Regions from separate parts of the Homo sapiens genome. Here all the other regions are linked to region 5. Evidence: fine-mapped expression QTL. A gene starts in region 5. Each other region holds a variant in brackets. All regions are shown on one strand. Distances are between the middles of the regions.

Region 1 (4,383 bases), 180 kb after region 5:
TTTGCTCCAGCTAAAATAGAAATGTCCAGTTAGTCACATGAATCTCCTGTGAGCTCATCCAGATATTACATAAAAGTTCCCTTCTGCCCCCTAGACACAGGCTATGTGTGCTAGTGATGCCTCTGTCATCTCCTTACTCTGAGCCTTGGGACGCAGAAACCTATTGATATAGCAGGTGGATATTTTTCTAGCAGTTACTGAAAGCTGCCTTCTATAAACATTGGACCTACTATGTAAGAGACACTAAGTAAAGTGTTGTATTATTACTAATAAGAATGTTTCATGTTTACATCTTGATGCTCTTGAAACAGAATAAGAAAGCAGAGTATGCAGGTTTTTCTCTTCAAATTCAAGTGGTAGAAGAGAGAAGTAAGCATGGAGAAATCCTTCTGAAATGTCTGATATTTACAGTTGGTATTTAAAAGTGATAGGATCAACAGAATGACAGCATTTTTAAAACCCAAACTCAATTGGCATTTCTGTGCTGGTTGTTTTTGTGACAGGTTTATGTCTTCCTGCTGCCTTGAGTCCACATAAGCCTCACTGCAGCTTGCAGGGCTCAGGTTGGACTATGAGGCCTGCAATAATGTGGAGCTTTAATCCAGAGTTATTTTTAAAATTTAAAACCATAAAAACAGCTAAAACTCATTTGTTTCTTGGGGAGAAGAGAATAGCAGGGGACTGGATTCCTTTTTAAACAAAAATAACTAGCAGTTTTTCCCCAGGGTTTGTATAAATAAAATTATTTCTGAAGATGAGAACTTTGATGGCAAGTTTTCAGTTTAGATAGAATTCACGTACCTCAAAAGTAACTTTTAAAAACTTAGCCATTAGAAAAGGTAAGGGCTTTAAGAACACACTGTTATCAGACGTGCCGATGAAGAGAGGTGAATTTTAATCCAAGTCCTTGGTCCATCCTAGGATAGCACAAAGATTAGCTATCACGGTGACAGCTCCTGCATGATGACAACTTATCTAAATGAGAGGTTTACTGGCCTAGTGTTCCTGTGGACTAGGCTCTGTGAAACATCCCTTGTTTTCTTTTTTCCTTCTCAGATTAAAAAAGTGGCAATATACTTGTGCCGTAACAACACCATTCAAACCATGGAAGAGCTTCTCTTTGAGCTGCAGCAGACAGAGCCCGTGAACCCCATCGTCCAGCATTGTGACAACCCGCCCTTCTACCGCTTCACGGCCAGTAGCAAGGCTTCCGCAGCAGCCTCAGGTAAGAAGAGCAACCGGGCAGACACCTGGTCACAGATCCCTGGGGTTTCCTTCATGTAGATTCCTGAAAGGATATGAGAATGTGTTTGTTACTTTTTTCTTATTCCTGTGTGTGCATTCAGTTAAGAGATGGCTTAAGAATAACTGAGACATGGGCTGGGCGTGGTGACTCACGCCTGTAATCCCAGCACTTTGGGAGGCTGAGGCTGAAGTCAGGAGTTCAAGACCAGCCTGGCCAACGTGACAAAACCCCGTCTCTACTAAAAATACAAAAACTTAGCCGGATGTGGTGGCACGCGCCAGTACTCCCAGCTCCTCAGGAGGCTGCAGGAGGAGAATCACTTGAACCCACGAGGCAGAGGTGGCAGTGAGCCAAGATTGCACCACTATACTCCAGCTTGGGCGACAGAGCAAGACTGTATCTCAAAAAAAAGAGAATAACTGAGTTTCTTAGGGATCATAGGGTTAATGAAATGATCTTGTAAAGATGACTGAGAATCTGTGGCTCAAGCATCCTCCATCACAGAACTTTGTATTTCAGCCGATCCCAGCCAGGACATTGCAGTCACTCAGGAATCTCATTTCTGGATCCCCCTTCTTGTATCTGGACCCTCCCTTGGCTATATTCCTTCAGCGTTGATTAAAATTCCCCCCAAAAGTATTATCACTTTTGGTTAATTGGTGTCTCAGCAACCTTTCATGAAATATATGCCATCCTCCTCAAATTCCTTGAAGTCTGCCTCCCTTCTGCTGACCTCATGCAGTAACTGCCTTCCAATTCCTCTCCTCCCTGAGTCTACTGTCTCCTCTGTTCGCCCTACACCCTGCCACCAGAGCAGTGTTCTTACAGGGAAGCAGTAGCACAGCAATCAGAAGTGCTAGGTGCTTGGCCTTACTTCACTAGCATTAGTTTAGTAACTCCTGGACCCAGAAATACTAAAGCAGCCAACAGCAGGGCCAGCCACTATAAATAAGCTCATTGCCTAAGTGGCCAGGAAGAAGAGGTTTCAAGAATGTAGGCTTGCTTTACGAGAGTTAAGGAATTTGGTTTGACCATAACAGATGTCTACGATTCTCTCATTTCAGTGGTGTGGGCTTGGAAGATTGTTTAGAATGTCTGAGATTGTGCAGAAGATGTAAAAAATCTTCCAAACATAAGAATTTACAGGAAATCTTTCCCTGGAATTACTTGAGACTTGAGCTTGACCCCTCAGCTTGCATCTTTTTATAAGTGTTTTTCTTCCA[T/A]TCCCATCTACAGGAACCACCTCTAGCAGCAATACAGTGGTTGCTGGCCAGGAAAATTTCCCAGATGCTGAGGAGAACAAGATATTGAAAGAATCTGATGAAAGGTTGGTACACAAATTTGACTTAATATCCAGTGTAATGTTCTGCAATAATCTATACATAGACATCAATACAGGTTTGTGGAGTTTCATAAATTTTACACGTACATAAAAATCCTTCTTTGTTTTTAGAAACTCAGACTTACTTTCCAACTCTACTCAGTATATCCCTAAAGATAACAGTTATTTCTGTGCAAAGTCAGAGAAGAGAAAGATTAAGAAGGGTGTTGTTCTGGTGGTGGTGGAATTTCGCATACCTCAGGGCTTAGTAAAAACCATGAGTTGTTCTGCTAATGGACACAGACCATCTGGAATTAGAATTGCCATGTGAAATTTTCGAATCTGATAGTTGAATAATTTCTTAGGGATAGAGTAGTCATCTTGAGATGAGTTCTATGAAACATGATTATTATTATTTTACTTTTGCTTTGTGCTGTCTTGGTTAACCAAAACACTATCTTTTCCTGCTAAAAAAGTCTCCGTTCCCTCCACATTAGCTCTTTAATAATAATATTTCCCCTATATCTCAGCCTTCTTATTGCCTTGCCTATGAACTACTCATCAGTAGTCAAATCAGAGTCACTCTTTCCTGCAGTTGATTGTGAAGAGCAGGGAGACAAACCAGGAGAGAAAAACAAAACTCAATTTAAAAAAAATGAAAATTAGGATGATCCTCACGGTGCTTCAGCTGAGCATTTTATAGTGAAAGGTAATGAGGGAGCCCTTTTACTTAAGAAATTAGTAAAAAGGATGAGATGCTCATGAATTCATATTAAAGGTAATTTAGGGGATCCAGTGGTGAAAATAACTCACTTAGCCCAAAATGCCCCAGTAAGCCCACAGTGCTTCCTGAGCATCCTGAGGATTTCATCATGTGTATTGGGGCACAGTAGGGGCTGGCGTGGAGATGACCTGGCACAGGGCTGCCTGCCCTTGGGGCTCTGAAGGCTCCTTCCCTAATTCAGGCACCAGCCAGATTCCTCACTGCATCACTGGGCAGCTGTGTTACCTTCAGGCAGATGCTCATCCATACGGGCTTCCCTTCAGACTAAAAGCCCAAACCCAGCAGATCACGAATTATAGACCTTGTCCTTTGAAGTTCTCTAATAAAGCCTTTTATTTCTTTCTCAGGAATGAATAAAGGTTTTTATATTCCACATATTAGTGAAGGTACAAGATTATTAATTAGCATGTTACTTTTTAAAATCTATATTTGCTATTAATATTACCTTCTTTGGAAAACTACCTCATGATAAAAGTCACAGTATTTCTCTAAAGATATTTTTACTTTCTCACTAGACTATAACATTCTTGATCATTTATTGTTTTGTCTGAGTTTCCTGTCTGAATTTTATTTGAGGTAGAAAGATGATAGATCTCCATGTATTACCATCTCATTACAAAGGCCTGTTTAGGGCCAGAGTTCTGAGTGTCCTGCCTAGAGGTTTTAGTGGTGCCTTTGAACTTAAGAAGCCAGTAATCTCTCTAATATCAAGATCACAGAACATCTTCAAGAGAGATTTTCTTGTTTAGCTCTTACTCCTGCTCTGTCACCATATCTCTGCTGGTCATTGGAAAGCCTGATGCAATTATCTACCCATATATATCACACATATTCATACATGTCAGATTCTTTTATACTGATATTTATCTACCTATAACATTGATTGATCATATTCACATATATGTGCAAACATATGTCTATGAATATGCTCTCCCAATGGACACCACTATTCCGTTGATCCCATATAGCACCTACACTATTTGTCTACTGTATTCTTTTTTTTCTATGAAAGTAGGCTGTGCCCTCAGCCTA
Region 2 (4,383 bases), 93 kb after region 5:
CAATATGATCATTTCCCTTGAAAACCCTAAGGACTCCTCCAGAAAGCTCCTAGGACTGATAAAAGAATTCAGCAAAGTTTCCAGATACAAGATTAATGTACACAAATCAGTAGCTCTTCTATATACTAACAACGACTAAGCGGAGAATCAAATCAATAACTCAACCCCTTTTACAATAGCTGCAAAAAATAAAATAAAATACTTAGGAATATACCTAACCAAGGAGTCGAAAGACCTCTACAAGGAAAACTACAAAACACTGCTGAAAGAAATCACAGACAACACAAACAAATGGAAACATATCCCATGCTCAAGGATAGGTAGAATCAATATTGTGAAAATGACCACACTGCCAAAAGCAATCTACTAATTCAATGCAATCCCCATCAAAATACCACCGTCATTCTTCACAGAATTAGGAAAAGCAATTCTAAAATTCATATGGAACCAAAAAAGAGCCCACATAGCCAAAGCATGACTAAGCAAAAAGAACAAATCTGGAGGCATCACACTACCTGATTTCAAATTATACTATAAGGCCATAGTCACCACAACCACGTGCTTCTAACTTTTAAATGAGCACAAATGACTGCTTTGCTTCTCCTACCTCTTCTTCCTTCTGCCTTTTACTCTTCTCTCTCACCACCCCTTCACTTCTTCATTCCTCCTTTCACTAAGTCTCAAGTGGCAAAAAATGTAAGAGAAAAGGGACAGGGAAAGAAAAGAAAAGTGGTAATGCCGATCCTCTTCACCCCTGCAGTCCTGCTCAAATTGGTGATCATATTATTTCCTTCTTGTTTCCTTACATTGTTTAGCTCCTTTCACGAGATCTTTCAATGTCCACCTCTGGTATGGTAGCCTGTCTCAAGTTGTTATCACATTTTACAGGTGGTAGAATTGCAGAGTTGAAAGCTACCTTAGAAAAGACCACAAGGTGAGGTGATAGACGCACAAATAACTACTCAAGTTAACATCATTGAAAATTTTAAATTTGAAGTCAAATATTCCGACTTCAAATCCAATGTTTGTCCACTGCAGCACACAGAGAATTAGCATGTTTTGTTGTTGTTGTTGTTGTTGTTGTTTTGAGATGGAGTCTCGCTCTGCCTCCCAGGCTGGAGTGCAGTGGCATGATCTCAGCTTACTGCAACCTCCGTCCGCCTCCCGGGTTCAGACGATTCTCCTGCTTCAGCCTCTCAAGTAGCTGGGATTACAGGCATGGGCTACCATGCCACCTGGCTAATTTTTGTATTTTTAGCAGGGACGGGGTTTCACCATGTGGGCCAAGCTGTTCTCAAACTCCTGACCTCAGGTAATCTGCCCGCCTCGGCCTCCCAAAGTGCTGGGATTACAGGCATGAGCCACTCCGCCCGGCCAACGTTAGCATGTATCTACCAGTGCAATTATATAATTTTAAAAATGGGTTTTGCAGTCTATTAGGGAGGAGTCCTAGATTTTTTATGAATTGTATTACTCTGAGAATACCTTCAGTGTGCTTTAATGTAAATATTTTAAATTTTACAGCGATGAACAACAGCGAGATTATTTAATGGAAAGACGGGACCTCGCCATTGATTTTATTTTTTCTTTAGTATTAATAGAAGTTTTGAAACAGGTAGGTGATTAATTTATTGTTACTTTTAGATAATATTTATTGATCTAAAAACTACTTAGGTTGTAAAAGTCTAAGTTTTTAAAATTATTTCTGAATTCCAAATACTGGGTTATATGACTTATGTTTATTGATTGCTATTGATTGTCATATATAGTTATTGGAAGTACTGTACCGATTTGTTCTTTAATATTCCCTTCTGAGTTAAGAACCACCTTTTTTTTTCAGATTCCACTTCATCCTGTAATAGACAGTTTAATACATGATGTTATTAACTTGGCTTTCAAGCACTTTAAATACAAAGAAGGGTAAGATGATTTCTCACCTTAGAATGTTGAAGTTGGTGTTTAAAACTAAATCAGTGGTTTGCTTTTTTCCGATGACCAGGGATCCCTAACTTGTCTAATTATACCCTACTTAGGTACCTTGGTCCCAACACTGGCAATATGCATATTGTGGCAGACCTGTATGCAGAAGTCATTGGAGTGTTGGCACAAGCCAAGTAAGTGAATGCCAGAACCCTTTACCATGAGAACGTGCGTGCTTTCACTGTCCTTCCAGCCCTAATTTAGGGAAGTTGGGGTTGAGCTTACAAGGAACTAGGTAGGGCTCTTTGCCATGTGTGCCCCATCTCTGAAACTGAATAGAAAGCTCTTCCAAGACAGGTATCAATTATCTTTTTTACTTGGCACTTGGGCCAGATCCTACCTAGAGTCCATGGGTTTCATACTGTTGCATCAAAGAAATGGGGTGACCAGATTACATTTCTCTCTGCCTAAATATTCCAAGGAAGTTTATCACTTTTGAAAGTTCTGTTTTCTCTAGCCCATGAGTGGGTGGTTACAATATATCAT[C/G]TATCAGTGGGAAAATTCCATTCTAGAATGTCCCCTTTACTATAGACCTTACTTAATTCAGCTGAGCTAAAAATGTCCCAGACTCTGTCATGGAAACAAGTCAGGGGGGAAATTCTCATTGCTAAATTTATCTGGCCCCATAGCACTACTTAGCAGGCAAGAACAAAATTGCGTTAGACTATTAGCAACAATATACCTCTTCCAAAAGTGATGTCACACCCTACTTACCCAGCTTCATTTTGTCCAACCCTGAGGCAAATCAGGCAAGATCCCGAATGCCTAAGTTAGGCAAAATGAACCAGAGACATAATGTGAATTCATGCCAGGAGGTCAGCTTAAAGCAACAGTGATGCTCCAATCCTTGTGAAATGCAATCCTTCCTCAGAAAGAGATTTTTATCTTCAAGGGATTGAATTTCGTAACGTAGTAGCATGGAAATTACACAATTTATCAAAAAAACAAAAATTTTAAAAAGCACTTAGCAATCTTACCTGGCCAAAACATAGACCAGAATGCAGGAAATAGAACCCCTTAACTCCTTGGCATAATTTATTTAATCTAATCCAGTTTATCTACTCATCCTGACTATATTTTTTTTAATATATAACACATCAGTGTTCGAAGGAGGAACGGGAACTTCCAGAGGATGATAAACTGATGCCATTGAGAAATAAAGCTCAACCGCTGGTGGCAACAGAAAGGAAAGAAACTGGCCAAAGCATACATAAGAATTAAACAATAGAGTGATCTGGGCCATTTTGCATGAGGCTATATTGTAGTTTTATAGCCTATTAAAATAATTGTGGTTCATGAATCATTAAGAAAAAAGTGTAATGCATTTTGGAGATATTTCCATTGCAATTGAGTAATGAAAGCATTAGCATTTTAAATGGACAAGCTGTAGTTATCCAGCAAATCGTGTATCTACCTCATTTCTAGAAAAGATTGGGAAAAATGAGGTATTAACATGTATACTTGCTGATTTGTCAAACCCTGAAAATCTCAACATAAACTTTCAGCTGTCATTTGGAAACTTCAGTATCCAAAAATGACTTTGTGTTTTCCTTAGTTTTTGTGAATTATGCATAACAATAATATTGGTTACTGTCAAATGACCTTCCTTAGCTCTGTGATTCTGAGTTGGTTGTGAATAAGTTGAGAAACACTGTCATAACTGAGCAATATTCTAAGCTTGTAGGAATTTCCATTTTAGGTAAGATTTATGGTCCACCAAGTCAGTGTTTGCTTGCCAATGGTGGCTTTTTTTATTTTCGTGATGTCAGTATTTGTCCCTATTCTGCGGTAGTAGGGTGTAAGAAATGCCTCCATTTGGACAGTGCTCCAGTACTTTCCAGTCTCTAGTGAACCGTTTGGCCAGTCTGCTCTTGCAGTAAACACAGACTCCAATAGCCCTTGATGTGTTCTCAACTAGTCTATATGTAGTTAACCTTGATGGATAGATGGTATAAACTTAAACTAGTATCATACCATGAATTATGACATTACTTCTTTCTCATAAGTACACCAGGACCATTACTTTATTGTTACCTTAGAAAAGTACTGTTTCCTTCATTCCCAGGGTGGGAGAAAGAATGTTTGCTTATCTGGTATAGTGTGATTATCTTTTTTAAAAAAGTTGAGTAATGTAATAATTCTAATTTTAGATTATATGTCTCATTCCCAATGATAATGCTTATTAAATATTTTCCTGATTATGACTTTAGCTATTAGTACTTACTTTGGAATTTGAGTTTTAGCAGAATCACTATTTTTAGTCTTACTAGTGATGATGCTGTTTAGTTCTTGTCATTTAGGGAAAAGAATTTTGATAATAAGTGTTATTCACCCATAATATTGACTTTTTGAAAGTCAGTTAAAACAAATTTAACTACTTTGGCCAAAATCTGGTAGATTCAT
Region 3 (4,383 bases), 87 kb after region 5:
TCTAGTGATCTGACCTAAGAACCCCTGGTTTTCACATGCACTCTATATGTTAGTATGTTTCCTTCTGGTCCTGTTTTCTGCATATGTATACTTACATAGTATCTCTAACAAATTGGAATCATACCAATTAAATGATTCTTCATTTTTTTCATTTACCATATCATGAACATTTTCATGTCATATTTTTATATTTATATTAAAATATGATTTTAATGGTTTCAAAAATAGTCCACACCAAATTCCACATCTTATTAAGCATTTACATGTAGTTGGACATTTATGTTGTTTCCATCCTTTTGCTATAATAAATAATGCTGTCCTGCACCTTCTTACTTATCTTTAATTATGGACTTGAGATAAATTCTAAGAGTGGCCTTCTTGGGAATGATTTTTATTAGGTTCTTGATATGTATTTCCAGAGATGTTATGCCTGTTTTTTTCTATCAGCGGTATATGAATATATCCACTTTATCACTGCTCATCAACTCTGGGCGTTATAATTTGCTTATACAGTTTGTTGATTAGCTAGTTAAAACCCATTTCATTGTAGTTTTACATATTCTGGAGACAAGGCCTTAGTCAGACATGTGTTTCGCAAATATTTTCTCCCACTCTGTGGTTTGTCCCTTATCACGATCTTAACTGAATTCTTCTAAAAGCAGAAGTTTTTGGTTTTGAAGAGTTTCATTATATGAAATTTTATCATAGACTTTGCTTATGGGGCCGTACCTAAGAAATCCTTGCCTAATACAAAGTCACAAAGGTTTTATCCTATGTTTTCTTGGAGTTTTATATTTTTAGGTTTTATACTTAAATTTATGAGGCATTTTGTGGAAACTTTTGCATAGAGTAATGAGATATGGATTGAAGTGTTTTTTTATAGTAATCAGTTAAAAAATCAGGACTCTTTCCAGATAAGGAAATTAGAATAACAATTCTACCAAAGGCACATTTGTTCTTTAAAGAAAAAGGGAGAAGTTTGCCTTTAATGTAACAGGGGGTAAATTATTGCTGCCCATTTATATTTTGAGTCTAATTTGGGGCATACTTCAAATTAATGAATGAATAATTATTGTCCAAAACCATACATTATTATTACCACTTAGGTTATTTGGTGATGGGGGCAGATTTGTTTATATCATGTAAATTATTAATGTAACTGTATTCATATATTTATACAACAAACATTTTTAGGACGGAAGAAGCATTCATCTACTTTAGGCAGATGAACGTGGGAACATAATATCTTTGCAGTTCCATGAATAACCTGTATGCAATTAACATCTGATTTCTAGAATGAAAGGGAGTCAAAGTAATTAACTTTCTTGAACTACAAAATTATTCTTATATGGGGAACATTTGTCACCATTAAGAGACAGGCTCTTGGGAATGTACTAATAAAGATTATGAAAGAAAGGACTGTGATACGGAAGAAAATATTTTAGTGAGTAGTGCTTGGGGTTACTTGTGAAATAAAAAGTTTCTCAGTAATTGGCAGTGCTACCAGTGTTCTAATCACCTGCATTTTCCTCCATAGGTCATCAGCTCAATGAGCTCCCTTTCTGAGTACTGCCTGCCTTCCATTCTACGTACATTATTTGACTGGTATAAAAGGCAAAATGGCATTGAGGATGAATCACATGAATACAGACCAAGAACAAGCAATAAATCAAAAAGGTACATTTCTTTTGTGTAAGGATCATGGTTTTATTTTGTTTTGTTTTCAGGAAACATAAATCAAAATTAGAGTTACAAGGCAATTGGGTCTTCCTGACTCTTCACAAGGATGCCTAGCAGGTGCTGCAGGGGCCCTGTGTCTGTAGCAGGTAACCCATTTGGAGCACCGAGTCACTGCCAGCCGTCACGGGTTGAAAATTCATACACAGCTTTATTTCAACTTTGGTGGAGACAGGTGTGAAGGGCCACAGGTCACTTTCTTGCCAGCTTCTTTCCTCTGCCCTCTCCCACTGAGTCTACACCCAAAGCAGAATGCTGACTTCAGGCCTTGCGTGACATGCCAAGATATTTTAGTCCTCGTTCCAGTAACCTTGAGTGCTCAGTGTACTGTAGTGGGAAGGACGCTGGACTGGACGTTAGTGGTAGTCCTGGCGCTGCCACTATTTAGCCATGTGACTTTGGGCAGCTCCCCGCCTCTCTGTACCTCAGCCTCCTTGTGAGCAAAACAAGGAAGTTAGGTGACACCATCTCCAACTCCTCCTTCCAGCTGAGTATTTTGTTTATTT[A/C]TTCTCTGTTCCCTTCTTCCTGTGGGTTTGAAAAATGGAACTTGCTGCTCCAGGAGCATATCAGCATCTGTAAAACTTAAGATTCTCATTAATGTGTGTCCTCCCCAAATTTTAGGTAAGCACATATAATTTCATATGTTTAGTCAACCTATAGCAAGGCAGTGAATATAAGAAAGATTAATACACTTACCTTTTTTAAAAAAAATAAAAGATTATTTTAAAAAGTAGTTAGATTTCTCCACATGAATGGATTATTCCAATTAAAAAAATACTTTTAAAGTCTGTAAACTGAAATTAATCAACCAGAAAATCAGACATTAACTACTTTTTGTGAATGATTTATTTCTCTCATTTTTCTTGAAAGTCCTAATACTGTTTCAAAAGACTTCTTTTGAAATAGAAGAATTGTAACATTACCATGTTACACTTCAACAAAATTTGTAATCTGCTTTTATAATGTGCTTGAATTTATGCAAGATTTAATCATATAATTTTGTTTGGGAGAGAGATTAATAACTTTTTCGTATTGAATTTTTTTTAGTGAAGAAGGAAATTTTTAGAATTTTTAGATATAACTCAGATGCCATAAAATTCACCCTTTTAAAGTATATAATTCAATGTTTTTAGTATATTTACAGGGTTGTACAACCATTACCACTCTAATTTCAGAACATTTTTATCACCCCCAAATCCTGTACCCATTAGCAGCCTCTCCTCATGAATATTTTTTTAATTTATCAGGTTTTAAAAATAGAATTTAAATTGTTTATCTGAAAAATGGTTCAGACCATGTGATTAAGAAATTAAAAGGATCATTTTATTATTTTTTCCATATTACATGTTGTCTTATGAACAGATATTAAACCTTCCCAGGGGCAGGGAGTGGGACAGTTTTTAGTGAGTTGAATTGAGTTTTAGTTTTGTTCCTCTGTTTTGTCAGAATTTAGTTGCTGAAATTAGATTTTTCATGAATTGATTTCTTTATGGATTAAAAATTATAGTTTTTAAAATTGTGTTACTGATTATTTTCAGGAGATCAGAGTAAGTACTGAGATCAGATAAAGAATCAGGACAGTAAAATTTGACTTAGTAGCATTTTAGTTAATGCTTGAATTTTTAAAATAAGAGAGAAAATGTGCTTAGAAAACAGCCAAATGAATGAAGCTCTCTAGGGTATGGTGTAGCTAAATGTGAGTTTCTGCTACTAGGAAAAAAAGGTTGGGGGGACTTTAAGGAGGAGCATAAACTACTGAAAATAGATGTCAGGGATGCACATTGGGTTGTGATTTCTGAGATTAGTACAGTATCAGCATTTGGACTGCCAAATAAATCTGTCAAATGTCTCTGGCTCCTGGCAGTTAGACTGCAAACCAGCAATAAAGTTGAATTCATTATTAGAAATGTATATGTCTTACTTTGATTTGAAAACATAATTTGGCTTATTAAATAAAATAGAATCAAAGGTCTACATTTTTTTTTCTGCCAAGAACTGCTACTTTCTCAGGTTCCTCTGGCCACTTGTAAAGACCCTTAGCATCCAGCACAAAAATACTCTCTCTACTGCTGCTGGCCATCTCTGGGAGTTCTCCTTCCTTTTGGTCTTTCCAACTTCCTGTCTCCTTATTCTATAATATAATGGATATAAAGCCTGATTTCTGAGTGCCCTCCTTTTTAATGCAGCTGCATAGATTTTCCTTTCCCCCAGCTCGCAGTGCCGCTTACTAGTTCCAGTGGGTCTTGAAGGACTTTAGATAGATGGTTTTGTTCACAGCTCTTTCTCCTGGCAGGGCTGTTCATAAATGATCCTGAAAGAATGAGTTCCTACTCTGTTGATACATTTACTCCTTGAAAGATAAACATGCAAGTTCCTTCTTAACGCGTTCTGTCATCCACCAGCCTTAATTTGACTTGCTCAAAGTTACAGAGCACTCCAGAAGGTCTTCTTTATATCTTAAATATCACATTATTTTCTTCTTATTCCCTTTTGACTAAAGAGAAAAACATTCCAGATTTAAAATAGTCTTGATTTATTTTGAAAAGATCTTCCTGGCAAGTCTAAATCCTGTCATCCCTCCTCATTGGTTTTATTTAATATATACTATTGAGCATTTATGTGTTTGGGAAATTATGCTAAATACTT
Region 4 (4,383 bases), 170 kb after region 5:
GCCTTTGTTTATTTCTGCATATCATTTGTGGCTATGAAGAGTGAGAAAGTAACTATATAATCTTTTGTAAACATACTAATTAAACTGATGTTTTACCTTTAATTCTATTTTTAAATGGGAATTAATTAATTTTGTTACTTCTAACCTTTGTTAAATACAAATGCTCATGAGATATCCAGCTAATGCTTTTCATACTACTTTTTTACTTTCCTACATCTTTATAGATCCTTGAAGCAAAGCTTTTTGTATACTCAAAGAAAGTCGCTGAGCAAAGACCGGGAAGTATTCTCTATGGAACACACGGCCCGCTGCCACCCCTCTACAGCGTGTCACTTGCCCTCTTGTCATGTGAGCTGGCCAGGATGTACCCTGAGCTCACACTCCCCCTCTTCTCAGGTACCAGGCAATAGTCAATAATGACATATGTGATCATTTCTAATAATGACGTATGTGATCATTTCTAATAATGACATGTGATCATTTCTTTGCTCTAAGTAATTTTTCTTTTTAAATTCTAGTTTAATTTTAGAGTTATGACCAGGCACGATGCCACGCATTCCTGTAATCCCAGCACTTTGGGAGGCCAAGGCAGGCAGATCACTTGAATCAGGAGTTTGAGACCAGCCTGGCCAACATGGTGAAACCCTGTCACTACTAAAAATACAAAAATTAGCCAGGTCTGGTGGTGTGTGCCTGTAATCCCAGCTACTTAGGAGGCTAGGCAGGAGAATCGCTTGAACCCAGGAGGCAGAGTTTGCAGTGAGCCGAGATTGCGCCACCGTACCCCAACCTGGGCAACAGAGTGAGACAGTCTCAAAAAAAAAAAAAAATCTTAGAGTGATAATTAGTGATGCTAAGTTTGTAGGTCAGAATTACTGTGGGCTAGATCCAGTTACATATGAAAGTAAATTCTATAATTGTTAAATGAAAAAAATTTCTTTATCTAAAGCAGTGTAGGCATAAACATACATATGACAAATGCAAGGTGCTTAGATTAATAATACTAACTTCTGCATACATTATATATATAAATTTCCCAAAGAAACTAATATCCCACAAAAGCTAAATATGAACAGTGTAATTTATAACACATATAATTGCTGCAAGTTGTTTGGTGGTTGTGATAGTGGTGGTGTTTTGTAGCTTGTATTTTGCTACATATGTAAGTTGTTGAAAGTTTGAATTTTTGCATATTCTTTACAATCTTCATAAATAGTTTTTGTGAATTTGGCTTTGCATAGTGGATGGACTGCCACATGGAGGATAAACTGCAGTTAGGTAATGCAGAATTGCTAAAGAATTGCATTTGTCAGGCCGGGCGTGGTGGCTCACACCCGTAATCCCAACACTGGAGACCGAGGAGGGCTAATCACCTGAGGTCAGGAGTTTGAGACCAGCCTGGCTAACATGGTGAAACCCCATCTCTACAAAAAAGACAAAAATTAGCTGGGCATGGTGGCCCACGCCTCTAGTCCCAGCTACTCAGGAGGCTGAGGTAGGAGAATCACTTGAACCCGGGAGGCAGCGATTGCAGTGAGCCGAGATCATGCCATTCCACTCCAGCCTAGGCAACAGAGTGAGACTCTGTCTCAAAAAAAAAATGCATTTGTCACCTAACTTCTTGCCTAAGCTTACGTAGCACTTTGCCAAGAGACAGACTTTGGCCTCTTGAATTCATCCTGTTTTTCCATCTCTATCACCACCTCACCACTGCTTTGTCCAGATCTTCCTCAGTCCTTCCCTGCCTCTGCATTACCTAACTACAGTTTATCTTCCATGTGGCAGTCCATCCACTATGCAAAGCCAAATATGTCCAGCACTTCTTAACTCAAACTTCTCTGCCCAGTTGTCCTAAAAATAGCTGATAACAGCCTACATTTAGTGAGTGGATAGTAGGTACCAGCCTCCATGCTAGGTACTTTATGTGCATTGCATTTATCACTTAATATTTATAAACCCTGGTATAGTACAGTGGTTAGAACAGAGGCTTTGGAGTCAGGCAACCTTTCACTAGTTGTTTGACTGTGGGCAAGTCACAGAACCTCTAAATTACATTCCTTATCTGTAATAGTAATGACTACCCCATAGGATGTGAAGATTAAAGTGATCTAATGAAAACCAAGCAGCTGGCCCAGTCCTGGCATGGAATTATCACAACTACCACCACCACCATCATCATTGTTTTACAGATGAGATGAGAAACTAAGGTTTAGAGATGTTAAATAATTTGCTCGAGACCATATAGCTAGGAAGCAACCAAGTCAGAATTAAATCTAGATCTGTCTTCCTCCAAAGCCATTGCTATAAAATTAGAACTCAGCCAAGGGGCAGGG[G/A]AAAAAAAGCTCCTTTTCTAAACTTGCTTTCTACCTTTTCATTCAAGAATCCTCTACTCCAGTCCTACTGAATCTTTGACCAACATTCCAGGTCCTCTTGTAAATCTTTGCTTCTGTACATGCTGTTGAATGGCCCTCACCCCTTCTTCCTAACTTCAACTTTCCAGAAGATCTAACTTAACATCCACCTCAACTGTGCAGACCTCTCCATATACCTGAGGCAGAGTTAGTCACTTCTTTGTGTAATACCAGAAACAGTGGAGAGACCCAATAAAAGCCTTTTTAGTAAATTAATTCTCTTCTTGCAAAACTAAAATTTATTTTTATGCACTTCACCCAAGATTTGTTTGCTGCCTACATGCTAGGCACTGTGCTTGGGTTTCAGAAATACAGAGGGAAATAAAAGTCTCTCCCATCAAACGTTCATAGTCTAGCAGAAAAGATAGATATGCAATCAAGCCAAGCACAGTGGCTTATGCCTGTATCCCAGCACCCTGGGAGGCTGAGGCAGGTGGACCACTTGAGGCCAGGAGTTCGAGACCAGCCTGGCCAACATGGCGAAACCCTGTCTCTACTAAAAATACAAAAATTAGCTGGGCATGGTGGCACATGCCTGTAGTCCCAGCTACTCAGGAGGCTGAGGCACAAAAATTACTTGAACCCAAGAAGCAGAGGTTGCAGTTAGCCGAGATTGTGCTACTGCACTCCAGCCTGAGCGACAGAGCGAGACTCTGTCTCAAAAAAAAAAAAAAAAAAAAAGGTGTGCGATCAAATGATTTTGATACAGTATAGCAAATGCAATTTTTTAAAAAAGAAAAATGCTCAATGTATTAGACAGTAGCTGAAGGACTAATCAATTATTGGGCCAGGAATATCAGAAAAGAATTCCCAGAGAGAAGTTGATGTCTAAGCTGTAGTTTGAAAGGAGTAGAAATTTGCATAGCAGACAAGTAGTTGATAGACATTACAGAGCAAGAGACCATTGCATATGCATCAGCTTAGAGTTATAAACTAGCATGATGTAATTGGGGGATTATATAGAGGTCAGTTTAGGTAACATAACGTGCAGGAACAGGAAAAGCTAGAGATGGTCGTGGGCAGATGCAGAGGCCAAAATCATTATCTTGGAAGGCCTTGTGTACACTACAAGGTTTGTAGGCCAGCAATCTTCCATATGTGCTTTTTGAATCCCCCTTCAGAGCTCTGTAAACAGAGAGAGCATCCAAGCAAGCTGCTGGGGTTTTGAAAGCCACTGATGAGTTGCAAACGAGAAGAGGGAGTATCAAGATTAGAATGCATTTTTAAAAGCCTGGTTGCAGTGTGGAGGGTGGATTAGTGAACATCCAGTCTGGAGAGAGGAGGATAGTTAAGAAACAATGGCAATAGTCCAAGGAGGAAATAATAAATGATAAGGGCCTGAACAAAGACAGCCCAATGAGACTGGAGGGGAGAAACCAGAGCGAAAAGCTGCCAAGCAGAGGCACAGAAGAGAATGCCTACTGTGATATCAGGGAGGTCAGTGATGATAACCCTCCTAGAAACCCAATACAGGGAGAGGGGAAGGTTTGGTGCAAGGCAGAGATCAGGAGCCCAGCCCAGGATGTTGAGTGTATGCCTCTGCTGGACTTCCTCCTGTATGGATGAGCCTGAACTGAGGGAGGTCAGTGCTAGCAACTCACAGAAGGATGGAAGGGATTAGAGCCACGGGCATGGATGAGATCAGGAATGGAGAGAGCACAGAGTGGAAGAAAGGGCCTGGACACCCCCACTTTTGCAGACTGGTCCGAGGAAGAGCAGAAGGGTGAGAAGGAATGGAGGGAGAACACTCAGGAGAAGGGTTTCATGGAAACATAAAGGAAAAAGAGATTTAGAAGGAGAGAGTGAGCAGTGCACAGCCTCCGATGCAGTAGAGAGATCCCAGAAGAGAAGACCTGAACATGACTCTCTTGAGTTTCGAGATTCATTGGTAACTGTCAGTAGTTTCTGCAGGGAGGTAGTGGCAGAAGCCAGATCACAGTGGCCTGGCTGAGAAAGAATGTAGAAAGAGAGG
Region 5 (4,383 bases):
TAAATGTCTCCAACTTGCTCTCCCCAAATAGTTACCACTGGTGTTCAAAAGTAATATATCTTTTAAACCACATAAAGAGTAAAGAAAAAAAAGTATTTAGCTTTTTAAAAAAAAGTTCTATTCTAGAGTCACTAAGGATTCATAATAAGAATGAATGGGCCAGGCGCAGTGGCTCATGTCTGTACTTTGGGAGACCAAGGCAGGTGGATCACCTGAGGTCAGGAGTTCAAGATCACCCCAGCCAACACTGTGAAACCCTATTTCTACTAAAAATACAAAAATTAGCCGGGCATGGTGGCGCATGCCTGTCACCCCAGCTACTCAGAAGGCTGAGGCAGGAGAATCGCTTGAACCCGGGAGGCAGAGGTTGCAGTGAGCCAAGATTGCACCACTGCATTCCAGCCCAGGCGACAGAGTGAGATTGTCTCAAAAAAAAAAAAAAAAAAAAAATCAATGTAGCTAAAATTTAATGAAGTGTTAACTATGGGCAAGATACTATGCTGAGCCCCTTTCATACATAGTGTTATTTATTGTTTCCAACAACTATAGGAAGAAGGTACAACCCCATTTTACAGATGAGGAAACGAAGGCTTAGCAAAGTTAATAGCTTACTTTGGGGCTCAAAGCTAGTAAGGGCTGGTGCCAGGAGCGAACATGGGGCCCTGCCTTGAGAGCCCATGCCATCGTTAATCGCAGGGCACTGTGCAGCCTACCTGTTCATTCACTGCCATCTGAGTCTTGGCAAGCATCAGATGGGCGTAGGTATGAAATTTATTTTCAGATATAATAATTGTTTCAAGGTAAAACCTTTGGGTCTTATTTTACCTAGAATCCATACATTCAAAGTACAAGTGATAAAATCAGTTCAGCAACTCTAGTATGCACATGAATTAAAAAGAAGTCAATCTGGTGAGAGATTTCATCAGAATAAAGTGTATAAGTGGAGTTGGAAATCTGAGTGATTGAGTGCTTGCCATTTGGGTAAGTGTAATGAGTTTGAAAAACTAATTGTATTGATGAAGTATCTTAGGGCCTTTCAGAACATAGTTCTAGAAGTTTTATTTAGTGTTGAATTTTAAAAATTCTTTGTCCTAACAATAAAAGTACATTGTAGTCTTTCCCTTCCATTTTTAAAATGAACTGTTAATCTAGGAAGTCCTGTTTGTGTGTTGATTTGGGGAGTTAGCCCAACATTTGCTATGTTAAATACTTATTAACATGGTTTATTACTTTTTTCTGTTTTTTAGACAACATTAATCATGAATGTACTGGGACTTGGGAAGGATCCTGTGGTTTATGAGATAGTTGGCCAAATCCCACCTCTTCCAACATAACCTGTCATTATTAAAATATAATACTCTTATTTAATCCCCTGGTCAAGCTAAATGATAATGTGAAACAAAGCTAACCAAAATCAGGACACCTGATATCAAGAATTCATGAAATCAAGAGCCATTGTAGAGCAAGGAATCTAATGCTTTTGCTTCTTATCCTTTTCATACAAATAAAATAAGCTTCACTGGGCTTAGTGAGTCTTAGAAATGAGAGGTTTGAGAATAAGATCCATTGTGGAGTGTGTGACATTACAAAAACAAGCCAACTAAGCAGTGTGTACTGTCCCCTTAGAGTGCACACGTTCGGGCTCCGATGCCCCTTGAAAAGACTGCATTTCTGGGAGGGAAAAGTAAAAATGCAGATACCACCATGCGTGTGGAAGGCAGGGAAGAAAAAGCCCAGACAAGCGTCCTCTTGTTGAGTCTCTTTACTGCAACGAGGCTGACGGATGGGGTTTTTCAAAACGTCGCTGCAACCAGATGCAAGGCTGCAGCTTTGCTTACCGCAGCGTGCTGCAGTTGTGTTTATTTCAGGGACAGACACAAGGGGAAGCAGCAGCCAGAGCACACCCGGGCCGCTCACGGGAAGCCTTGCTGAAGAGAGAGGATCCGCAGAAGCTGGGAAATTCCTCCCGCAGCCTAGGCGGAGACTGAGCCGCGGCTCAGGTTGAGACAGTGGGCAGGGGCAGGGGGCGGCGCTCCCGGCCCATCCCTTAGCCCCGCGGCGGCCGTGTGGGCCGGAGGCTGCCTGCACCGCGTCAGGGAGGCCGGCCTAGAAACCCTCCCTCCCAGAAGAAAGCCGATCCCAGTTCAGGTGGGGTCTTCCTCGGTTGCGTACCTGGCTGGAGCCGAGCTGGTGGGCGGCCGGCAGCCGGCGTTTCTGGTGATGACAGCCCCGAAATGAAAGCAGCGCGGCCGCCGCCTCCGAGGGCTGCAGGGAGATCAGCGTCCAGCAAATAAGAAGCAAGTCCTGGACCCGGAGGAGGAGGAGCGGCCGAGCATCTCTCTCTGCTCCGCCGTGTCCTTTAGATGAGCACTCCCGGCCGGAGCCGGAGGTGGATCCGCAGAGCTGCCTCTGGGCGCCTGACCCCGCGCTGACATCACAACCTGTGACAGGCGCATCACGCCCGGTACCTGCTCCCGGCCGCTGCCCGTCCTCCCAGCCTCTTTGTATGCCGCAGACATGGCCAGCCAGCAGGATTCGGGCTTCTTTGAGATCAGTATCAAATATTTACTGAAATCCTGGAGTAATAGTGAGTAATAGAAAATAACCTTTTTGTTTGTTTGTTTGCTGGATGTTGCATAAGGCTGGAGACAGAAAATCTCAACTGGACACATATGTTTGTGAGCCGCGGAAGTTTTTCTTTTTTTCTTTTCTTTTCTTTTCTCTTTCTTTCTTTCTTTCTTTCTTTTTCTTTCTTTCTTTCTTTCTTTTTTTGCTCCCATCTGCTGTGAAAATCAAAATGTCAGAGACTGAACTAGCTTTCCTTAAGTGCAAAGGCTGCAATGGAATTACAGTAGATTGTGTTTGATTAAATTTTCAAGTGAGGCAGCCCTTCAGACTCTGGGGGAGCTCAGGATCAGGCATTCCTGGCTGCATTTCCTGCCTTGATGTTTATTTGATTTGTTCAGGCTTTCTCTAAATATTTTGTGAAGTGTGATTTAATCAAAGGGGTGTGGCAGGGTTTCAGAGTACTTTGTAATTGTTTTTTTAGGGTATTGTCTGAAGAAAGAAAAGTATTTAATAGTCCAAAACCTAGGACATCCTTTTTGTATATAGAGGCATCTGCAGATTTATTTCATCTCTCCCTCTTCCATGTGGATGATGTTCTGAATGCCATTTAATATTTGAATTTTTAAAAATCCTGATGTTTGCTATAGTCCAAATATTGTGCTTTTTTGAAACATAAACAAGTGAGGTTCTGACCCTAATTATTTATTAGGATAGCAGAATATGATGGCTCCTGAAGTTCCATTTCTGACCTACATAAGGATTTTAGCAATACGCTATTTCAAAAAGACAACCTCTAAGCTGCCGTGGATCTGGAATCAAATTAAAATGAGGCCTTCAGGTGATCAATGATGCCTTGTATTTTCCGAACTGTTTAAAAAGAAAGTCTTCTCTATTTCACTAACAGCCTTTGTACTTGCTTTGGATAAAAGATCAGCAGGTATTACTGATGCTTTATTGTTTTAAATAAAAAAATTTTTTCCCCGTGAAAATTTTAATATTGTATTATGTGCATACTGATTAACCTACCTGTGCTCAAAGAGCTAGTGATTAATTGTCTCCTACACAAATGACCTGTGGCCAAGATTGTTCTTATATAAACAAAACCTGGGCAGGAGAACCTGTGCTGCAATTGCTTTGAGGAAAAGAGCTAAAGTACCTTCAGCCTTAAGGTATTCAGGGATGTGCATCTCTAAATGATATCCATAGAAACCATTTTTTCCAGGTCATTTTGCACCACTGTATACACTATGGGGCTTGTCTGAAGCTGTTTTTCTACAAGTGGGAAGCCATTTGGGAGTAATACTGTTGCCCAAACAGCATTCTTTACTTGTCATAGCTATAAATCATTTAACTTGGACTCATTATTTTTATAATACTTTACACTCAAGGATGAATCTTCCTTTGTCTATCTGCTCTTTGATTAATGAAAAGAATTTGACATACAGTGTTCTTTATGGAGCAGTTTTCCAATAACTGAAAAAACTCACTTTTGAGTTGACATCAGTACGTGGTTTTTAAACATATTTGATTATTCCAAGACCAGACTGTTTTCTTCCATCAATTTTTGTCATTGCATCATTAAATAGAAAATTATGTTGTGACAATACTGAGGCCAATGGGATTTCTTTTAAAAATTTCTCTCCCCTTGTCTATTTTCAAATCACTCTAGATAAAGTATATATTCTCTCCACCCTTCCTAAACTCCTCTCCCCACATACATACTTCAGGAAATGATTCAAAATGACTGTTCATTTCTACTTTGAGAATATCTGTGATACAATTTTGAATTCTTCCAATTCATTCAGCAAATATTTA
Region 6 (4,383 bases), 77 kb after region 5:
GAGAAATTTTACTTTGGGTGACTATGTGTCCGTCTAAAAATGGGGTATTTTATACCTAAGGAAGAAGAAAAGAAAAAGAAGAAAACCTGTTATTGGGTAACAGCTAGATGTATCCACTAGATATTTAGCCAAAATGCCCAAAGTAGAACTATTTACAGTTCTGTACCTCTTTCTTTCCCACTGTGGGTTTCTCCTCAAATTTGCCAGTTTTCCAGTTTGAACTTAAATATACATATATATTTAGAAGCTAAAACTTCATGTTTTCTTTTATATTTTATATTTTTACACTCATAATTTTATTGGTTTAGTATTTCTAAATTTAACCTAATTACACTCCAACTCTGTAAGAATAAACCTGGAAGGGCCTGGCGTAATGGCTCACGCCTATAATCCCAACACTTTGGGAGGCCGAGGCGGGTGGATCACCCGAGCTCAAGAGTTGGAGACCAGCCTGGCCAACATGGCAAAACCCCATCTCTACTAAAAATACAAAAATTAGCCAGACGTGGTGGCACGTGCCTGTAATCCCAGCTACTTGGGAGGCTGAGGCAGGAGAATCGCTTGAACCTGGGAGGCAGAGGTTGCAGTGAGCTGAGATTGCACCACTGCACTCCAGAGTGGGACTCTGTCTCAAAAATAAAAAATAAAAATAAAGAAGAAACCTGGAAAAAAGATTTTATAAATGACAAGATGTCTAAACAGGATTTTTAAAGCTCAGTGTTAGTAGGAGAAATATACTAGTGAATGCTTTACACATTGGAGAACTAGGAATTTGTGCCCTCATTTCCAGAATTTCACTTTTCACAAACTTCAGGAATATGAGTTTTTTTCCATTGTTATACAGCACCTACCTCCTGGCAACCATGTGCCAAGCATTATGCCAACTCATGGAAACAAACAGGAAGGAAGCATAGTGCCTGCCCTAGAGGCCCCACCACTGGAGTCTCGTTGGAGAGAAAAATAGAACTACAATCAGATAAATGATAACCGCAGACTAGTAAGTAAGCTAAAGCGGGTGTGAGCCTCAGGAGAGCAAACTTCGCCCTGCCCTGAGGAGCCAGGGAGGCCTTCATGGAGCAGGCAGCAGAGGTTCAGAGCAGTATGGGCTATCCCTTCTGGTCCATGCTAGTGATAAAGTCATACCAGTAACAAGAATCAATAAAGGCAGAAGAGAATTCCAACAGCATTTGAAGATGTATATACTATCACTATTTATTTTAAATTACTATAGTAACTGTCAGGGCTTAGCGAGTAAAAGGAACTAAAAATCGTTCTGGTAATAAAGTAATTTAGCAAACACTTACTGTGCATGTGTATATGTATATACATACACACAAAGTTTTATATGAGACAAAGAGATGTAAGAATGTGGTCCCCAGGCATGTGTTTCACATTCCAGGAGCTCCAGATCTGGAAGAGGGTCAGGCAGTGCACAACCAGCCTTGACATAGGCCTGCATGTGTAAGAAGTGCCACATGAATGGTGTGGACAGTAAATATGCTGAGACTTCAGGGACAGAAGACACATGCCTCAGGACCAGTTGCCTAGCTAGAAAATGCCTTCTAGATGAGAACAAGATTTATCAGGTGCCTAAAGCAGTAGAATCGATAGGATTTGCTGAGTGTTGATGATGAGGAAGATAGGAAATTTCAGAAGAAAGGAACATTTTATGCAAAGGTCCTGAACAGAAAAATGACACTATCAGTTATCTTTGAGGAACCTAGAAATTGATCAATTTAGTTGATGCAGAAGGCATGTATTGTTAAAGGATAATCTTCAAAAACAGGCAAAAATATGACTCACATAGAGATATAAAATGAACCTGTATTAAACATTTTATTTAACTTGTTATTAGTGCAGGATGTTACAACCAGTTAAATTCCAAAAAACAGACACATTTATAAATCATCATTGAAATGAATGCAATCAGAGGCAAAACTGGCTTCTTTCATGTGGGGGAGGGAAGTCCACTGAACCTTCACTGGACAGTTTTTCATGTCTATAGACAAGAATTATTTTGCATTGCTATCAGGTATCTACCATTTATACAATTTTAAAATAGCTCAAAGGCATTGACAGGTATAGAGCCCCCATAGACTCAGAATCAGATAACCCCTTGAGAGGTATGCTTTAGTTTTCCATTGTAAACAAACATTTCCTACAGTCTGGCAGAAGTTAAAAAAGAGATCAGGCGGCAGAGGTAGAAAGGGATCAGATTGTGGAAGATCTTAATGCCAGTGGGATGGGGCTGTATGCATACCAGTATCAAGTTGTCAACTTGATGTTAGCCTTAAGGAGACAATGGTCATGAAGGCAGTAATGAAGAGACCTAAGGCATTTGGGGAACATGGCATTGATAAAGATTCTAAGCTAAAGGGGCCTAA[A/T]CTAAAATGGAGGCAGTGAGACTATAAGAAAGGACGATTATAAGCAAAATTATATAAAAAGGATAAACATTGGTTGAGAAAAGGAGAAACAAAGGATAACTGTAGTTTTAAGCATGATTTGGAGCGATTTCCATTCAATTAAACAAACAATGAGTGCCTGACACATACTAGGATCTGTGCAAGGTGCTGAAGTCACAAAAATGAATAAGACAGAGCCCTGTCCTCCAGGAATTCTCAATCCCAGAAGGAAGACAGTTATCTACACAAATAAAGTGGCAATGTAAACGCTATAATAGAGGTTGTATCAAGTGCTCTAGGAACTCAGATAAAGGAGGAGTTAATGATGCTAGGAAGGTACACAAGTGTGTGCTACAAGAAGCAACCAAGGAGCAGTGACATTTAAAATAAGCCTTTTATCCAGATGAACAAATTGGGCCAGGGTATGCCAGGCAGCAGGGGTCTCACAGACAAAGGAGAAGTTGAAGGTGAAAAGAGCAGAGTGCTGGGAATGAGGGTAGAAAGGTGGACTGAGCCCATTGCAGTGGGTAGTAGGAGCCGTGCTGAGGGGTCTAGATTATTTTCTATGGGCTATGAGCTCTTCAAGCAGAGGAAACTATACTTGGGGGCAGAAGACAAGAGAAGGCTGTAAATCCGTTATGCATACTGAGTTTTCAGGGAAGGTGAAATATCTCAAGAAAAATAACGGGTTCAGTTTATTATGTGGTCACTCAACAAACACTGATAGAGACTAGAGCACATAAGTAAAGAACGTCATAAAGAGTTTAGTATCAGGAGGTGGGATCTACAAAAGAATGGCTAGAAAAAGGGTAGTTTGGAAAGTGGGAGAAGTCTAGAGATAGTGCTCTCTAGGGCAGGGATGGCCCATCACAGCAGCTGATGCAGGGACATCACGGAAGATGCAGACCAGGAAGAACTGGAGGTTAGCAGCTAGGAGCTCACTGGAAGTGGCTTTGAGGAAGGCTTTTGCTGCAATGGCTATTCATGGATGTGTAGAGTGCATTTTCATAGTCGATGGACTAATGTTAAATACTTTGAAGCTTACTTTCACAAGCTAAGTTATAGTGGCTGATTATGATTGGTAGCACCTAAATAACAAAGCAGCGTGCTAGAACATAATCATGGAACCAGTGATGAGTTCCTTATCTGGCATCTGTGGAGAGCATCTATGAATGAAAGGCATGTGAGCTCACCATTTTACCTTCAAGTGGTTTTCTTCGTTGTACAGACATCTTTTTACAATAAAAGTCCACAGCATTTTATTTCAGATTCTCCAAAGAAACAATAGCCAACAACAAAGAACTACTCATCCAACCGTGATGAGCGTGGGCCTGGGTGGGTGATGATCAAATTAGCCCATTTTTAAAAGTGAAAAAGCAACACTCCAAAATAACTCTTACTTGAGGGAGTTTGTGACCCTTACCTGTTGGAGATTGTATTAATGACAGCCACTAGATACAGTTACTCTCAGAAATGAAAATTCTAGCTGATGAATGAAGTCAGAAACGAATATTCTTTCACATACCTTCCAGCTACATGCAAATGCTTGCTTGTTGATTTGCTCTGCCCTTGGCTTTTAGACCTTTGCTTATGTAGTATTTAATGATGATATAAACATACAATGTGTTAAATAATACCAAAAATTGTATGCTGTACAATGTTTTTCTGTTTGAAGTATTATTTCAACTTTTAAAACAGTCTCATACAGTAAGTGGAAGTTATTTTCTCTTTGCATAATAAAGTCTGATTACTCTGCAAAGGAGCATGTGTCAGAGCAATCAGAATTCAGATCCTTATTGTCACAGATGAATTGTCCTACTATGCTTTGGCATTTCATGAGGAACAGCATAGAAGATAAGAGAAAGTACAGGAAGCTAATTAAGACAGGGCAACATCATAGGATTCTGGGGAAGAAATCCTTTCCAGGAGAACCTGGTGAATACTGTCATTTGCTCAGGAGACTTCAAGGGAAATTATTGCA
Region 7 (4,383 bases), 74 kb before region 5:
TTTTGCTAGGAGAGCAGAATGCTTTAATTTGGGTTTTCCTGCTTCATTGACATCAGTATTTAAGCTTCCCTATTGCACCAGCTAATGGCAATACTGACACTATGTCATCTGGTAGAGAATCCCTAATTGGCAACGATGTATTTTCCTCCAGGAAAGTACCAGGGGCCTTAGGTGTCCTCCACATCAGGGTTTCTTAGTTGGGGGTTTGTATGCTTTTTGTAATTTATGTCTGTTCTCCACACTCTAAAAAACAGCTAAGTGGCAAACGGTCATAAGTCAAATATCCCTCCTCAAGTCCCAACTCAGGAACAGTTTCTGGTTTTTTGAGAGTACATTGGAGCCCCTGCATAACAAAAGGAATATTAACTTACCAATTTAGGGCTGTTGTTTTCAAACGATTGTGCAAATCTGAATTTCTGGAGGAGGTTTTCCAAAATCCACAGGCACTGGCCAAGAGATGTGATTTACCAAGTCTACACTGGGCCAGGCATCTAACTGCAGTGTGAACATTTTCCCAGGTTCATCTGATGTTGTCCCATCCCCTGGTCAAGAACTACTGACTTAAAGAAAGTGGAAAAGATCTTCAAAGATCAAAGTTTATTTGTAAACTATTCTAAGTTTCACGTGTAAGAAGCAGGAGGCAGCTATGCCTGGCAGACCTCTGTTGCTTCCCCTTGCAATCCAGTCCCCTTCCACGTACCCACCCAACCACTACCACCCTCGAAGTTTAGTGTATTCTCTGGCAAGAGAGGAACCTGTAATTTGAGTTTCATCATATGCAAAGTGCCTCTGTGTCCCCACTCATAACTGTAAAAACCAGAACTGCAGAGTGCAGAGGTCCAAACACACCCATATTACGGTCTTTGTTCTAAATCCTGCTCACACCATAGGGTAAAATATTAGGACTCGCTCTGTGCCTCTCAACCATCTTTTTTTTTTCCTTTTATTTTTAGTTGACATATAATAATTGTACATATTTATGGGATAGAGAGTAATATTTCCATACATATATACAATGAGTACTGATCAAATCAGGGTAGTTAGCATATCCATCACCTCAAACATTTATCATTTCTCTGTGTTGCAAACATTTAGAATTCTCTCTTCTAGCTTTTTTTTTTTTTTTTTTTTTTGAGATGGAGTTTCATTCTTATCACTCAGGCTGGAGTGCAATGACGCGATCTGGGCTTACTGCAACCTCCGCCTTCTGGGTTCAAGTGATTCTCCTGCCTCTGCCTCCCAAGTAGCTGGGATTACAGGTGCACGCCACCACACCCAGGTAATTTTTGTATTTTTGGTAGAGATGGGGTTTCACCATATTGGTCAGGCTGGTCTCGAACTCCTGACCTCAGGTGATCCACCCGCCTTGGCCTCCCAAAGTGCTGGGATTACAGGCCTGAGCCACCACACCCAGCTTTGGCTTTATGAGAATGTACAATAAGTTATAATTAACCACATTCACCCTACAGTGCTACAGAACACCAGAACTCATTTCTCCTATCTAGCTGTAATTTTATATCTGTAGACCAACCTGTCCCCATCCTTCCCTCCCCCTTGCCCTTCCCAACCTCTGATACCCCCAATCCTACTTTCTGCTTTCATTAGCTCAAATTTTGGGGGGGCTCCCACAGGTGAGTGAGAACATGCAACAATGAATTTTTTAAAATGGTAACAGTGCCTGTTAGAGGCAGCTGATTAGAGTAAGTTGGATGAATGAGAAACATTTCAAGGTTTTTAAAAATAAAAGCTCTCAACAATACAGATGATATTATAAAATATAGAAATGTTTAATGAAGAAGAGTTAATGAATATCATCGGTGATACTGAGTGCTGCACAGAAACTTCATTACTCAGAATTAGGGTAAACTATAGCTACATATTTTCTTTTGTTACTGAATCACATCCATATGAAACAAATAGCAATCTGGAAACTTCTCAAAAGAAATATTCTCGAAATGTGATTATTTATAATAAGGATGCCATGAATCACTATATAGTTATTTAAACAAAAGGCAAGGCAGTTTTGGAAAACTATAAACATTGCAAAGTTATGGCCTTGTATTTTTTCTTATTTTCTGCTAAATTAGAAAGAAATTTGCTGTTTCAAATATACTCAAGCTGTTCAGTTCTTCAACAAAAAGTAGGTGACTGAAAACTGTATGTTTAACTATGCTTAAGTTAATATTTATAGTAATGATAGAAGCCATTTTATTGGCAATATATCACTTCCTGATTTCCACACCAGGCATTCCCACATGCACAAACAGGTGTGTGGGAGGAAGGGAAATGGGCAA[G/A]AATGATTTCCTTCAAGAGGCTACTGAGAATGAAAACTCAAAATCTGCACAAATAGGGGTGGTGGAAGGAGAGAAAGAAAACTCCATGCCAGAAATAACATGCTTAGCAGAGAGAGAGAGAGAAGAAGAAGAAGAAGGAGGAGGAGGAGGAGGAGAAGAGGGGGGAAGGGGGAAGGGGAAGGGGAAGGGAGAGAGAGAGAAGGAAGGAAGGAGAAAGAAAAGAAAGAGAAAGAAAAGAAAAGAAGGAAGAAGAGGAAGGAGGAGAAAAAAACAGCAGAAATAAAGTAATGTGGCACCTATATCCACAGACATATCTTCCAGCAGGTAAAGTGTAAAGTAGTTTTTATTTTGAAAAGTTGATTGATACACACAGGGCTAGATAACTGATAAACTGCAGATAAGAAACTGGGTTTGGTGCTTGCCTGTGGGAAATGAGGATGTTCCTTAAATGTCACCTAGATGGTTAAAAGGAAGGGAAGTATGAGTGAGTCACTGCCGATTTGATGAGTAAGGGTTCCTTCTTTAAAAGGTTCTTTGGGATGGGCACGGTGGCTCACACATGTAATCCCAGCACTTTGGGAGGCCAAGGTAGGCTGATCACCTGAGGTCAGGAGTTCAAGACCAGCCTGGCAAACATGGCAAAACCTTGTCCCTACTAAAAATACAAAAATTAGCTGGGCATGGAGGCAGGCACCTGTAATCCCCAGCCACTTGAGAGGCAGAGGCAGGAGAATTGCTTGAACTCGCGAGGCAGAGGTTGCAGTGAGCCAAGACTGTGCCACTGCACTCCAGCCTGGGTGACAGAGCAAGACTTCATTTCAAAAAATAAATGAATAAAGTAAAATAAAATAAAATGTTCTTTGAAAGTTCCCAAACATTGAAAATAATGATGAATTAACAGAAGATTGAATGAAATGAGATAGTAAGAATCGAAGGTTTCTGTTTCATTCTCCCCACAAAACAACAACAGACTCTTTTATCTCTAACCAACTGCTGCCTTTGGAGGTTTTATAGGGATGTTGGCTGGGGTAGAAGTGGAGAACGAGACAGGGAGAGAGAGATTGAGGCTTTTAAGAGTTGCTGGCTACTCCTTCTGTTGCACTTCTCCTTGAAAGGCCTCCCTAGGGCAGTCTACCTGTTATTGCTCTAAAATTAAGTTAGGATCTAGCTCTGTTGTAGTTGGGCAGCAGAGGTAGACATTATGCCAATATATGCCATTTTGATGTTCAGATAGAAGTCCAGCATTGTGAGTTACTTTCATTATGTGTGAAAATACGGTGTGTAGAAGTAGGTAAAAATTTGCTCAAAAATTCACTACATTCTTTCAGGAGCTATAGCAAAGCAGCAATTTATGATTTTGTTTCTTTTAAATGTGGAAGTTTGGGATTCACAAATGCTATGAAATAGATAAATACATAAAAGTTGTACACAAAATGCACATTAACCAGCTGACTAGAATTTTGCCCCAACCCCGAACTGGAATGTTTATGAACCCCTAATCTCTTGTACTCTGCAATTCTAACCTCAGTGTGCCACATTGCTGCATGTTACTCATTGCTGAATGGAGTGGCACATAACATCTATTTAAATGCTGCATAATAGAACTATGGTATCGTTTAGGACTTTATATAAAAGTTATAACATTTGAAATGCCATGAATTTCATCCCAGTGGCAACATTTCTGTAGTCAGCTTTTAAGGAATATGATTAGATGAGATGTATACTCCACTTTTAAAATATTTTAATTATCAGAATTATAGAATTACATGTTTTTTTTTTAAGTCACATAGATTCTTCAAGCTTGGATCTTACCAAGCCTGGACATCAATGAGCTATTTCAGTTTGTTGTTGTTGTTGTTTTAATCAATGATAGGGCATCTTGGAAAGCCTATGGCATTTCCTCAAAAGTTTCCTTCTTATTTTCCCTCCTAATTATTAATCTTACATAAGATGTGCCAAGATTGATTCTTGGGGATTTACTATTTTTTGTTTATAGATCAAGCTTCAAAAAGTGCATGGTGGTTATGCTGTTGAAGAACTTAGACAAGAAAATAACTCACTTGGCAGTGAGCACAGTGGAGAATCAAAG

The links. PIP is the estimated chance that this variant, and not a neighbour inherited with it, causes the effect.
Region 1: its variant is the best candidate, but not a certain one, in a credible set for the expression of FRY in whole blood (INTERVAL, PIP 0.52).
Region 2: its variant is the best candidate, but not a certain one, in a credible set for the expression of FRY in monocytes after Pam3CSK4 (Quach 2016, PIP 0.55).
Region 3: its variant is the best candidate, but not a certain one, in a credible set for the expression of FRY in whole blood (TOPMed, PIP 0.82).
Region 4: its variant is the best candidate, but not a certain one, in a credible set for the expression of FRY in whole blood (INTERVAL, PIP 0.83).
Region 6: its variant is the best candidate, but not a certain one, in a credible set for the expression of FRY in whole blood (INTERVAL, PIP 0.60).
Region 7: its variant is the best candidate, but not a certain one, in a credible set for the expression of FRY in sun-exposed skin (GTEx, PIP 0.86).

Annotation. Positions count from the first base shown.
Region 1 is chr13:32,209,810-32,214,192 of GRCh38, forward strand. FRY (FRY microtubule binding protein) reads left to right here. Exons shown (of 61, transcript NM_023037.3): 34 at 1,057-1,225; 35 at 2,483-2,573. Among named protein-coding and RNA genes, the nearest start is that of ZAR1L, 100 kb to the right of the region's middle. RefSeq lists an enhancer at 331-1,530. The variant T/A (reference allele first, on the strand shown) is at 2,470.
Region 2 is chr13:32,122,762-32,127,144 of GRCh38, forward strand. It overlaps FRY (FRY microtubule binding protein), which reads left to right. Exons shown (of 61, transcript NM_023037.3): 5 at 1,525-1,615; 6 at 1,841-1,920; 7 at 2,034-2,114. Among named protein-coding and RNA genes, the nearest start is that of FRY, 93 kb to the left of the region's middle. The variant C/G (reference allele first, on the strand shown) is at 2,467.
Region 3 is chr13:32,115,797-32,120,179 of GRCh38, forward strand. It overlaps FRY (FRY microtubule binding protein), which reads left to right. Exons shown (of 61, transcript NM_023037.3): 4 at 1,538-1,677. Among named protein-coding and RNA genes, the nearest start is that of FRY, 86 kb to the left of the region's middle. The variant A/C (reference allele first, on the strand shown) is at 2,244.
Region 4 is chr13:32,202,132-32,206,514 of GRCh38, forward strand. FRY (FRY microtubule binding protein) reads left to right here. Exons shown (of 61, transcript NM_023037.3): 31 at 225-396. Among named protein-coding and RNA genes, the nearest start is that of ZAR1L, 110 kb to the right of the region's middle. RefSeq lists a silencer at 3,601-3,895. The variant G/A (reference allele first, on the strand shown) is at 2,334.
Region 5 is chr13:32,029,279-32,033,661 of GRCh38, forward strand. FRY (FRY microtubule binding protein) reads left to right here and starts at 2,496. Exons shown (of 61, transcript NM_023037.3): 1 at 2,496-2,587. The coding sequence starts at 2,518. It overlaps FRY-AS1 (FRY antisense RNA 1), which reads right to left and starts at 2,361. Exons shown (of 4, transcript NR_103839.1): 1 at 2,173-2,361.
Region 6 is chr13:32,106,713-32,111,095 of GRCh38, forward strand. The region is part of intron 3 of FRY (FRY microtubule binding protein); the gene reads left to right. Among named protein-coding and RNA genes, the nearest start is that of FRY, 77 kb to the left of the region's middle. The variant A/T (reference allele first, on the strand shown) is at 2,385.
Region 7 is chr13:31,955,193-31,959,575 of GRCh38, forward strand. It overlaps the pseudogene EEF1DP3. Among named protein-coding and RNA genes, the nearest start is that of FRY-AS1, 74 kb to the right of the region's middle. The variant G/A (reference allele first, on the strand shown) is at 2,295.